Linked DNA regions of Homo sapiens: region 2 is linked to region 1. The links come from fine-mapping of genetic effects on gene expression. Tissue or cell type: stomach. Region 1 holds a variant in brackets; the other region holds the start of a gene. All regions are shown on one strand. Distances are between the middles of the regions.

What was found. PIP is the estimated chance that this variant, and not a neighbour inherited with it, causes the effect.
Region 2: ZDHHC21 starts here. The variant in region 1 is fine-mapped to the expression of ZDHHC21 in stomach (GTEx, PIP 0.97).

What each region holds. Positions count from the first base shown.
Region 1 is chr9:14,155,762-14,161,829 of GRCh38, reverse strand. It overlaps NFIB (nuclear factor I B), which reads left to right. Exons shown (of 11, transcript NM_001190737.2): 4 at 5,937-6,005. Among named protein-coding and RNA genes, the nearest start is that of NFIB, 160 kb to the left of the region's middle. The variant A/G (reference allele first, on the strand shown) is at 2,369.
Region 2 is chr9:14,690,473-14,696,540 of GRCh38, reverse strand. It overlaps ZDHHC21 (zDHHC palmitoyltransferase 21), which reads left to right and starts at 3,109. Exons shown (of 10, transcript NM_178566.6): 1 at 3,109-3,312. RefSeq lists an enhancer at 2,604-3,104 and silencers at 3,178-3,247, 3,328-3,467.

The DNA.
Region 1 (6,068 bases):
GAGTTTATGTCCTTTGACCCTGTAATTCTAATTCTGGGAACTCCAGCCTAAGGAAATCATGAGAATGGCTGACAAAGATTTGTGTATGAGGATGTTAATTACAGTGCTATTTGTTTATTATATTTTAAAAATTGGGAAATAACCTAAAATGCCAAACAATGGAATGGTTAATATAAAGTATGATACAGCCATGCAATATATAGTCATAAAGATCATGCTTTTGAAAAACTTTATCTAAAAGGACAGATACAATGTTAATAGGAAAAAAGCTGGATACAACTATATTTAAATTTGATATTGATTTTATAAATAAATATATATATATATGCGGAAAAAGTTTAAAGGACTGGAAGGAAATATTGAAAAAAATATAATGCTATCAGGGCGTGTTAAAGTTGGGAAATTTCTGACTCCCTCCAAGATCACCTAAATCATCCTCGTGGGTTTACGTTTCATATTGAGAGATACACTTAATTCTAAATTAATATTTGAATGTTAACCTGGGCTATAGGCTGAGATTTAATCTCTGTGAAGAAAATCACCGTCTTTGCAATGATTAATATTTCTATTTTATAATCACAGTTTCAGCTTTAACTTCAACACAAGTTTAGCTTTAACCATGGATAGTTCAAGTCAGTTGAGAAACTGAAGATAGAACTATGTCCTGTAACATCACTACCAGAAAATTACCAATGGGTTAGTTGTGGTATCTGAAGTTATATGAAGATTGGCAAAGAGCTAGTATAAAGTAATCTCTTCTTGTCCCTTTACAAAAAGAATTAAGCCTTCTTTTAAACTCTGTTGAAGAAAGTGAACAATTGCAATCATAGGGCTGGAAAATGCCTATAGATGTCTTATGTCCACCTGTTTGTTCTCCAAATGAACAATGCCAGAAAACTAACATAGGAAAACATCTGTGTAAGAAGGGAGAATCTGTGGGTTGCAGTGGCTTTTGAGATGCTTTCTTCTTTTTTTCTGTTTTTTTTTTTTTTTTTTTTGAGATTTCCTTCACAAAGCAAGAATTTTTATATCCAGTGGGAGTCTTTATAGCCACTGAGAAACTATCTCTGTAAGATGAAAGTTTCCTCATCTGTAAAATGGCAACACCAATAATATGACATATTTTATAAGATAATGGTGAACGTGAAGTTAATGCCTGCTTGTGAAGGTCATCACAGTTGTTGGGAATATATTGGTTATGCTACCTTTGCAAAATTTCACATGCCTTTTTAGGCCTGTTCCCATTGGATGACAAATCTGTTTATTGAGCCAAAAAACAGCTCCTGGAACTATGCAGAATAAGTCAAATCCACCATCTACATTAATAGTCCTTCGAATACTTGAAGACGGCTTTCATGAATTTAATAACTGCTTTCTGTGGCTTCTTTTTTTTTAATTTCAAGAATAGAACACAGTAGACTGTAAAAATGAGCATTATCAGTCTTCCTTTGGATTTTCTATGTAAATGTTGTTTAACATTCAAATGGTACTGATTATAATTTGAGATATTAACAGTTAGATATGCCATTGTGTCCCTCTGTTATTGTTTGTAAAGGAGGTTAAACAGTATATTAACTTCTGAGTAGTGATTTACTGTTGCTTTTGTCAGAGAAAAATAAAAAAGAAGTAAAATAATATAATTTGATATTGCCTTTGAGACTTTTCAGTTTGTAGAAGTCTTTATTTCCTACTCAATTTTATTTTTTTTAAAAAGCACACATGTAGTGTAAATACAGCATCACACAAATGCAGAGTTGTTCTTTTCTTCCTGGATTAAGCTGTTGTGTAATATTGCTCTGTAACCATTAAGCAGCTGCTCTGCCTCAGAGATGCTCATATTTCCTTTGGTAGACGAAGGGAATTTACTATATGAATGTCTCCAAATTGCTTTAAGATCTTTAGCTGTTGTATTAGCTATTTAGATTTACAGTGGTCTATGAAATGTGAAAAACATGTTCCTGAAAGGCCCAAGGACCTTGGAGGTTACAGATGGGGTTATGTTAGCAGCAGATAACCTGACATTTTGCTGAGTTTCACCCCCTATCCTACTGCAGGACCCCTGCCCATTTCAAAATCCTCTCAGTTATTTTGCTACAGCCCTCAAGTATTGTCTTCTGTATGCTAATGAGTAAGCACTAGTAGGTATCCAAGTACTATTTTAAGTATCTGAGTACTATTTCATCCATGATTTCTTTTTCACTCTGCCACGTCTTGGTTAATGCCTGTCCGTTACAAAGGCTATGCTGCCTGCAGAGATGCATGAAGGTGGCAGCCATCTGCTTCCGGTGCTTCTCCCAGGCTACCCCACTTGGCTGATTCTCACCTGTCCCTGTTCCCATAGGTACATGGTTAATAGGCATCATCACTC[A/G]TCCTCAGGAAACCTTCCTCCACTAAAGTCTCACTGGGCTCCATGCAGGAGTAGAGCCCAGTGGGACCTCTGTGGTTTTTTGCATTTTATCCAGTAGGTTCCAAAGAAGTTCTGATATATTTCCAATGCTTTTCATGGTTTCGGTAAACTACCTCTTTCCATTGTTTCCGTAGATTCCAATTTCTTAGAACCTGGGAAGTTGGGGGTGGGGAGTGGAGAAACACCCTGCTACATTCTGAATTGTCTTCTTTTTTTCTGTGAATAGCTGCAATAGTCATTGTATTGTCTGTGTTTGACTGCCTGACTGTCTTCCCACTGGTAGAATTGGCCTTGAGCTGACTCATCCCTTCTTCATGATTTGGCTTCCAACAGGCTCACACCCCACTCCATCTTAATGGTCATGACTTAGGAGCAGATGGATCTCTGACTTCTCATTGGAGTAATAAGGAAATGAACTTCAGATTACACATAGATATTGTAATGTTATTTTGTATTACCTCTGATATAGTTTATGTAAATACATTGAAATGTTCATCACTTATTCATCGATGTGTTTCACAAATATTTTTGGGCTCTTACTATTTAAACACTTCCAGTTCTTTGGTTGTTACTTTGTATTAAATGCTTGACATTACACATTAGTACACAACAAAGTAAGAGATACAATCCGACCCTAATCATTACTCTTTCTCATGTGACCCAAAAGCCTAAATACACTCTTCAGCAAACAAGTTCTAGGGAATAACAGAGGTTAGTATAATTATCCATAAATCTTAAACCATCTGTATCTACATTGTAATAAAATGACTAAGATGTTAATGTGTGACCCTGTTTGTAAAGTTGAATTTTAAAATTTTGTTCTGTGTTTATTTAGTACTTACTCTATATATAGGCAACGAGTTAGTCATTAAGGAAGATATAGAGATGAACAAAACCCAGTCACTTCTGTAAATAAAGGATCTGATAATCCAGCAATGACTGCAAGACTTGAAAACAGATCTCTCAGAAAATCTGAAAGTACAAAGTATAAAATTAGTACAAACTAGGTGCTATACAAGTACAGAGGAAGGAGATTTCTGGCTGGGCCAGTGGGTGGTAGAAGGAGTTGGAGGAGCAGTTTACAGAGTGGGTGGTGGTTGGGCTGGATTTTGAAGGATGAGACTAGAGTGTGTAGAAAGAGGGCCATCTCATCTCAGGGAGCTGCAGGAGGAAGATATGAAGGGTAGGCATTTACAAAGTACAATTGGGTGATGAAAAATAATCTTGTGTGACTGGTTAAGTATATGAGCTGTAGTCATGATAAAGGAGGTTGTTTTGTTTTTTTGTTTTGTTTTGTTTTTTTTTTTTTTTTGAGATGGAGTCTTGTTCTGTCGCCCAGACTGGAATGCAATGGCTCCATCTCGGCTCACTACAACCTCTGCCTTCCGGGTTCAAGTGATTCTCCTGCCTCGGCCTCCCGAGTAGCTGAGACTACAGGTGCCCGCCACCATGCCCGGCTAATTTTTGTATTTTTAGTGGAGATGGGGTTTCACCATATTGGCCAGGCTGGTCTCAAACTCCTGATCTTGTGATCCACCCACCTCGGCCTCCCAAGATAAAGAAGGTTTTGTACTTAATATATTTACTTTATTAAGTTTACCCTATATAAAATAAAGTATAATGAACTATAAACAATAACAAAAGCAACAAAAATCTTTCTATATGATAGTAAGTTACAGTGGTCCAGAAGAGTCAAAACATCTCTTTCCCCGACCAGGCAAGACAGTCAGTGTCCTTTTTTGTATTCATGACTTTTAGCACCTTGTACAGTGATTGTTACTTAGAAGTTTCTCAATAATTACTGAAATGAATTTAACCTGGTAAAAATTAATTGCTCAAGAAATAAGAGTTTCTTAAAATAGAAGTGCATTAAATTGGGACATTTTGTTATAATACTCTTAAAAATGTATATATATTTTTCAGAATAATGACTTAATGTGGCACCTGTTTTATTCCCTACTGAGATCTTACAACTTCCTCTCACTCCTTCTTTCATTCTGTTTCTAAAGAAGGTGGGTGGGTGGATGTCAAACATCAGTGGCTCCTCAGTTCACAGCAGTGAAACACATATGCTAATTGAATGATTTTCTGTCTTTTCATGCTATGTATGGTTGAAAAGCAGTGTGGTGCCTTTTGTTCTGGTAAATTTTCTGAATAAAGATTTGCGGATCATTTTGGACTGTCTGGAGGCCAGTGTGCGTAATTCGGTATATAGCTGATCGCAGGTTCCACTGGCCCTAAGATCTTAATTTGTTGGTAACATGCTTATCATGGGGTTTATATTTTTATCTCCAGTAGTAACAACTCTATAAGATAGGTGATTTTTATTGTCTCCAATTTGTTAAGTGAGGAATCTGAGGCAAAAAGAGGACTAATAACCTAGCCAAGATTTCATAACTGGTCATCTGTGGCTAGGATTCAAATCCCAGCTCTTTGATTTCAGTGCTCCATGTTGCTGCACTACCCATGCTTCACATCTCTGAACTGCATCTAATTCCTTGGTCAGCCCTGAAGCTTTATGTAAAATCCAGTCAAATTGCCAGTTCTTAGAATCTAGTTTTGTTTGTTTGTTTCTCAGATGTATTTCAATTCTGAGGATTTTCAAACTTATTCTCACCCTAGGACAGAAGCAAGTAGGCCATAACCTCCCCTGCTAAGGTATTCCTCACACTCATTACACCCCCTTAACATAGATGAGAATGGGGTGGGCTGGGTGCAGGGTTACTGTTGTTTGTGGGAGTTCTCATCTCTAGTTTTGGACATAGACCAGCTAGCAAGCAGGCTCCATGGCCACTGTGGACCCTGCCCCGGTGTGACTTAAGGGTCATGTGGCATTCCCAGAGGCCTGGATTCACCACCATTTGCCAGAAAAGTTGTCTAATTCTTGAAATAAAAGGAGTCCAGTGGAATAGTAGCAAGGGTGAGGAAAGCAGTGAAATCGTGCAACGTATATTAAAGATGCCCAGAAATAGGTCAACGCAAAGTTCTGTATTTGCTGTATATACAAGTTCTGCTTTTTATGTTATTAGTGACCCTGGAACAAGGGTCGGGGTGCTGGTAACAGCAGTTCACTTTTCTTTCATCAGAGAAGGGTTTACAAAAGAACGGTGGCTTTAAGAGATCTTTGACATTATTCCAGCAAGGTGCTAATTGTGGTTGTGGTTTCCTTTTTCTTTCTTTCATTTTTCGCTTTAGTCTACCAGGTGCTACCGAGTCAAAAGCATTCACTGAGAGCCCACAGACCATTCTGTATGCATGGGCCATGGCAAATCAAACCGCATCAATAAACCTGTACTTTTAGAAAGGGAAGAAAAAATTTTCCTAAGAGATTATTTGGTATCTAAACTTTTTATTTTTGTTTAAACAAACCTAATTTGCATTCCTAAGAGTCATTTTTTAAAGTCCTTATTGTAAGCATATTTGGTTTTTGTTCAAACCATTGGCTTTAAAACACTTAAATTCTAGTGTATAATCATTTATTTTACTTTCTGCTTATATTGATCATTTTTCCTTTAATATTTATTTTCAGGTTACCTTGAGGATAGTTTTGTAAAATCTGGAGTCTTCAATGTATCAGAACTTGTAAGAGTATCCAGAAGTAAGTAAATTGTTTTGTTACTACTTAAGCATGCAGTATGATTTAAAATACTTTATATTTTGA
Region 2 (6,068 bases), 530 kb before region 1:
CAGTTTTCCTTGATATTTGGGGAAAAATGTTTATTTTACCTACTCTCTACATTCTAGGGATATTTCTTAGCCTGAAGTTCCTGGCTTCGCTGTGATCCTTTGGAGGCATAGGAAGGTGGGGCAACTTGTGAAACTTCATATATATAAATTTCATATATATAAATATATATGTTCCTGTATGTGTGTGTGTATATATGTGTGTGTGTGTGTGTGTGTGTGTGTATTTGTGTATATGTGTACTTTGCTGGGGTCCACAACTTTCATCAGATACTCAAAGAGATGTGTAACCCAAAAGAGAAGAGGTTAAGAACAACTTTTAGAATATTAGATTGTTATGGCACAGGCACTCTGCCACTCAAACAGATGGGAGAGACAACTATAGGCAACCAAGAAATCATGAATGTGCATCAAATATGGGTGCTTAAGGCATGGTACCCAGCTGGGCAGGTGGAGAATGCCATCCATCCAAAGCTGCCAAGGGCTATTAGCCAGTACTGATTAAACTCTGGACTGCACTGATTTTTGGAAATTGCACTAAAATCCAGATCCTCCCTAGTCACGGCACAGAAGCACAGGAGTTGGCTGTGTTTACCCTCATAAATGCCCTGAGTGTGCCTTTGTTAGAAGCTTGGTTGGCAGTGGCAGCAATGCTACTTGTCCTTGTCTACTTTTTCTACTTCCAGATAAATATTAGTTTGATTAATAATCACATTTCAGTTTGTCCCAGGCCCCATGAAGTAGATTAGAATTCTGGAGGGAAAAAATATGGTACGATCTATATCGTCTTTCCATAATATACCCAGTAAATAGAAAATCTTTTCAAAAGATTACCTGATGCCACATCTCCCTCACCCCCTTATTGTTACCCAGGTGCCTGAATGTATGGGTTGCAATACAATATAACCAATGATTAGCATGAATGATAGAACCAGATGACTTGACCTTCAGTGTAAGGGATAGGCAGGCCTTTGATTATACTCATGAAATGCCCATGCTAAAAAGGTTCATGTTTTTAAGGATGTTTCTCCTGCCTCTTCTCTCCTATTCCCTTGCTTAAAAATTCTCTGTGGAATTGATTTGGCTGATAAAAGACAGGCTAACTTATTTTAAAAAGGGACTGAAAAATCCATGCACTTCCAATTGTCATGTGCAATCATGGACCTGTCAACTAATTCTTATTTTGGCAGTTTTGAGATCACTTGTCACAAATTATTCCCTCTCACAGGGGTATCTGAAGAGAAAGCAAAATAATATGCAATTCATGTAGCTGGATTCAGGTGGAGGGGATTCTACTTTTAATATGCAATTGGGTAGCTGGATTTGGGTGGGGGGGGGATTTTACATTTAATATGCAATTCTGGTAGCTGGATTCGGGTAGGGAGGAGTCCACATTTAATATGCAATCAGGTAGCTGGATTTGGGTAGAAGGGATTCACATTGAATACGCAATCAGGTAGCTGGATTCCGGTGGGAGGATTCCACATTTCCTCTTCCTTCAAAGTGATTGTTTATATGAAATATCTCCTTCTTTTCAAACAGAGAAAGTTACAAAAATCCTACTACATCAAATGATTTATGAAAAATAAAGGTAATTCTATCAAAAGCAATCGTGACTAGTCTTTCAACCTCGCTATGCATATATCGGGGAGTGTATTTGTTAACCTGAAAGGCAATAAAATCTGCTTATGGGTAAATCAATTCCTACCACTGGGTTCTTTTGGGAATATCTAGTAATCTAGGTCAGTAATTCTAAAACTTGAGTGTGTATTAGGATCACCTAAAAGGCTTGTTACATCACGGATTGCTGGGCTACACCTAAACAGTTTCTACTACAGTAGATCTGGGATGGGGCAAAAGAATATGGATTTCTCACAAGTTGACAGGTGATACCGATGCTGCTGGTCTAGGGATCCCACTTTGATAACCACTGACCAAAGTTTTTAAGGTCACAAGGTGTTTATAATTAGTTCAGAAACCAGGACACAACATGTTTAAAAATCCTTAGCAATACAAGGTAATATGAGGCCCCAAACAGGCAACAATGTGCACTATATAAGGGCAGTGGTGAGAGAACTCTGGTTTGGCAAGATTTCCACTCTCAAATCTGGATAGGGTTAAGATCATCAGAGAGCAGGGCATTCTAGAATGGGGAAATGAACCAAATTAGTTGGAGCTAAGACTGGAGAGGTAGGTAGGGATGTGTCTGTGGAGGGCTTTTAAGCACATCTTATAAGGAATACAGATTTTATACAACAGGTAATATTTCTTCCACCAACACACTGTCTCCTCCTGTGGCACGTGGGCAGAAAGATCTAGCTCCACATTACTGCAAACGGTTTAACCTTCCCCAAATACTGTTCAGCCGGAGTGAGGTGGGAAAGTTAGTAGATCTCTGGTGTTTGGTGAAGATACCAAGTTAGACTGAGAGGTGGATTACTTGCATCGCTGAGTCCAAAAGTTGTCGGCTTTTGCAGGGATGGGAAAGCAGGAAACTTTTGGAGGTCTCCCAAAATATAAGAAAAGATTGTTTGGGTGTGGATTTAGGTTGAGGACAGGAACAGGAAATATCCTGGGATGTCTGAGGCAACCCAATAGAGGGTCTGAAGTGGACGAGACCATGCACTACAGTGCAATGCTTTTCCATCTTTACGGTGCACCCCAGGAGTCACCTGGTGATCTTGCTGAAGTGCATGTACTGATTCAGCAGGCCTGAAATTGTGCATTTCAAAGATTGTGAGTTCCCAGAGGATGCTGATGCTGCAGACCGCGCTTTGAAGCAAGGTACCATGGGACATCCCAGAACACCTGCGGGGAGAGAGGCCTGCTGGCCACATCCCCCGAAGAAAGGATACATGCAATCTTTTAAGCTAAGGCCCCCATCCTGTCTCTCGGGAGAGGTGAGCAGTGAGGATATGGGGACAATGAGAAGGACGGCTCAAGTAGGGCTGGGGAGGGGCAGAGGCGCCCAGGCGCGCCAGGTGCAAGCGCTCTGGAGAGTGCGGTCTGCCTGGGTCCGCGGCTCTGGGGCTGCGGCGCGATTGCAGGAGTTTCGGCCCTCAGCGGCTCCCATCGCGGCTCCCGGGAGCTAAGCGAGACGGCGACGGCGGCAGTCGTCCCTCCCCACGCGGGCGCGCGGGCATGCGGACACCCACTCGGCCGGTCCAGGCCCTCAGGCTCCCGGAAGCGGAAGGGGAGAGCGGCCCGGCCTGGGCGGCGGCGCCGGAGGAGGCGGAGGTGGCGCGGCAGGAGGAGGGGAAAGAGCTGCTGGCGGTCGGGAGAGCGGCGGCAGCGAGAGGCGAGCCAGCGGCGACGGTGAGTGTGCAGGCGCGGGGGCGAAGCGGCCGCCCCCACCCCCATCCCCATCCGCACCCCCACCCCCATCCCCGGCCCCCGCTCCGCTCTGCCGGGCCCGCCCGCCGCTCCTCCGCGCCGGGACGCCCTCACCTGTTCCTGCACGCCCCCTGCACCTGCTCTGTTTGGAACCCGGGGGTTTCTCGGTGCCTCCCCGCCCCAGGCCTGGCCTTTTTCAGAGCGTCTTCTGCTAGAGCTACAGCCCCTTGCTAAGTGCTCCTCCCTCAACTGGGGGTGGGGGGTTCCTGCTCTAGTCGAGACGATGTTGGCTAGTTATTTATTTATTTATTTTAAATCTGTATCCTGAGTTTCTCGCTTGTAAACTACAGTTTCTCTCCCCGCACCCCCGTCTGGAGACCTGCACTGGGATCCCGGGTTTCTCTGTGCTATTCCAGAGCTTTTCATTCATTCCAGACTTCTGGTGTGAAGCTGCAGAGAGGACAAACAGTTTGCTCCTTTATTGACCTTCTCACTCCTCTCCTCTTGATCCAAAGAGGTTTTCGGAAAATGGCTTATGGATGGCAGCAGTTTGCACTTGTTACTGTTCACTGTAACAGGTCGCTGGATTGTAACTGCAGAGTCCATTTAAGTTACGGTCTTTTTCAAGCTATATGTGGGTCACATTTTAAGATCCCTTGAGAGTCAGGGTGGATGTCTGTATCACCAGGGCTGAGAGGACATGACCAATTATTACTTTAAAATATTGCAATATAGCAGTCTCTAAAAGTAGAAGAGAAAAAAAAATCAAGGTCATTGTGGGCGGGTCATAAATTATATTGTAAAGTTACAGTCCAAAGGCGACTAAGGATAATTAAGTGCAATTTAAAAAGATGTGTTAAATAGGTCCTCAGCCTACTATGCTAATATATGCACTTTTAAAAATTCACTGCTTTCCTTGTGGTAAGAATAATATTAATAACAGTCACCATTTGATGACTGCTTAGTATGCGCCATTCCTGGATTAAAAGGCTTTTGGTGTAATATTAAATTCTTCCAACTCTTTAGATTTTACTTATTTTAAAGGTAAAATTCGGAGAGATGCTCTGTTTTTCCTTAGTTTGTGCCATCTCTTAAAAGCAAAAAGATATTTGAAGAATTGAGGTGAGAAATCCACTGGAAAGAAAGAGCCAAATGAGATTTGGTGTCGTGGAAAGAAAAACTAGATTCTAGTCCCATTTCTGTCACTATCCAGCTGTGGGTTTACAGGTAGGGCAATGACCCATGTTATTTTCTCTATACCATCAGAGAGCCAGACTAAATTATTTAAGGCTTATTTTAGCTTTTCCATGCTTACTTGGAAAATGTTTTTAAATAAGACCCTTTAACGTGGTTTGAAGGTACATTAAAAACATATACGAAGTATTAGTAAAATATGAAAATATAAGTTAAAATGTATAATTCCATAATTGTTTTGGTGTAGTACTCTTCCAGAATTCATCATTTTCGATGGAAACAATTCTATTAGATCCTTTGACACTACTGAGATTTCTGTTAACATACTTGAGAAGCTGTAGTTGGAATAAATGAAATAGAGCGTCATTTAAAGAAAATGATGAGGACCGTGTCACTTTTGCCTACGAGGTACTTTGTTTAATAAGAGAAATCTAAGCATTTAAAAATGCAGACATATAATCAGCTTAACAGGAAGTTCTGAGACAAGAATCAATGAATCATAACATGTACTTCTTATTTGCCTACTGCCTCATTTCTTTAATTCGTAATGACCGATTCAGAACCTGTGGAAAAATGCATGAATAAAATAATGGTTTTATAAAATGTGACCCACATATAGCTTGAAAAAGACCGTAACTCAAATGGTCTCTGCAGTTACAATCCAGGGACCTGTTATAGTGAATAGTAACAAGTGCAAACTGCTGCCATCCATAAGCCATTTTCCCGAAAACCTCTTTGGGTTGAGAGGAGAGGAGTGAGAAGGTCAATAAAGGAGCAGTTTATTGTTTGTCCTCCTGCTAGTCTTATTATATAGTGGTTTAGTAAAGAAACTGCTTGAGAAGTTGAGTAATGTCTCAACATGGAGCTGTTTTTCTGGAATTGTAATTGAATGTGACTCAGTGAAAACTTTTTTAGCATAGGAGGTGACACAGTGGCAGTATCAATACTACCAGGCAAAAGAGGGAAGGCAGAGGAAAGGCTGTTTTTATTGCCAAGAGTTTGTTCCCTAAATTCAGTTTTACTTTTATATTAAGGAATGTAACCTTTTATGTTGTTTTAGTAAAACATTAGGGCTCAGATTCAACTTTTCACATGCATTAAATATAATAGGCAATTTAGCATCTAGTAGAATAATCAGTGCTTAAATAACTCTTATTAAAGGTAAAAATACAGGTGAAATTGTAAAACAGTTTTTATTGTTGAAAGTGATTTGTTAAGAATTCTTGATAAGTCAAGTCAGACTAGTTTAAAAAGCACATTTTCATAGACATGTGAATCATCACTGTGCTCATTGATAGGTCCCTGAACAAAAATACCTTAGTATGATGGTACTTTATGTGTTTGTTTTGCTCTTTAGACCTAACCTAGGCAAAATTGTGACATTTTTGAAGTTTGCCTTCTGCCTTTCAAGCTGCTTTTTCCTCTGTGCTATTTCTCTCAGGGTAGATTAACCTTCTTCCCCATTTCAGAGACTCTCTTAACCGATGTGTTGCCCCTTCTACAAAAGGGCAGGTTGGGTAAAATTGATATTTTACCATTCACTG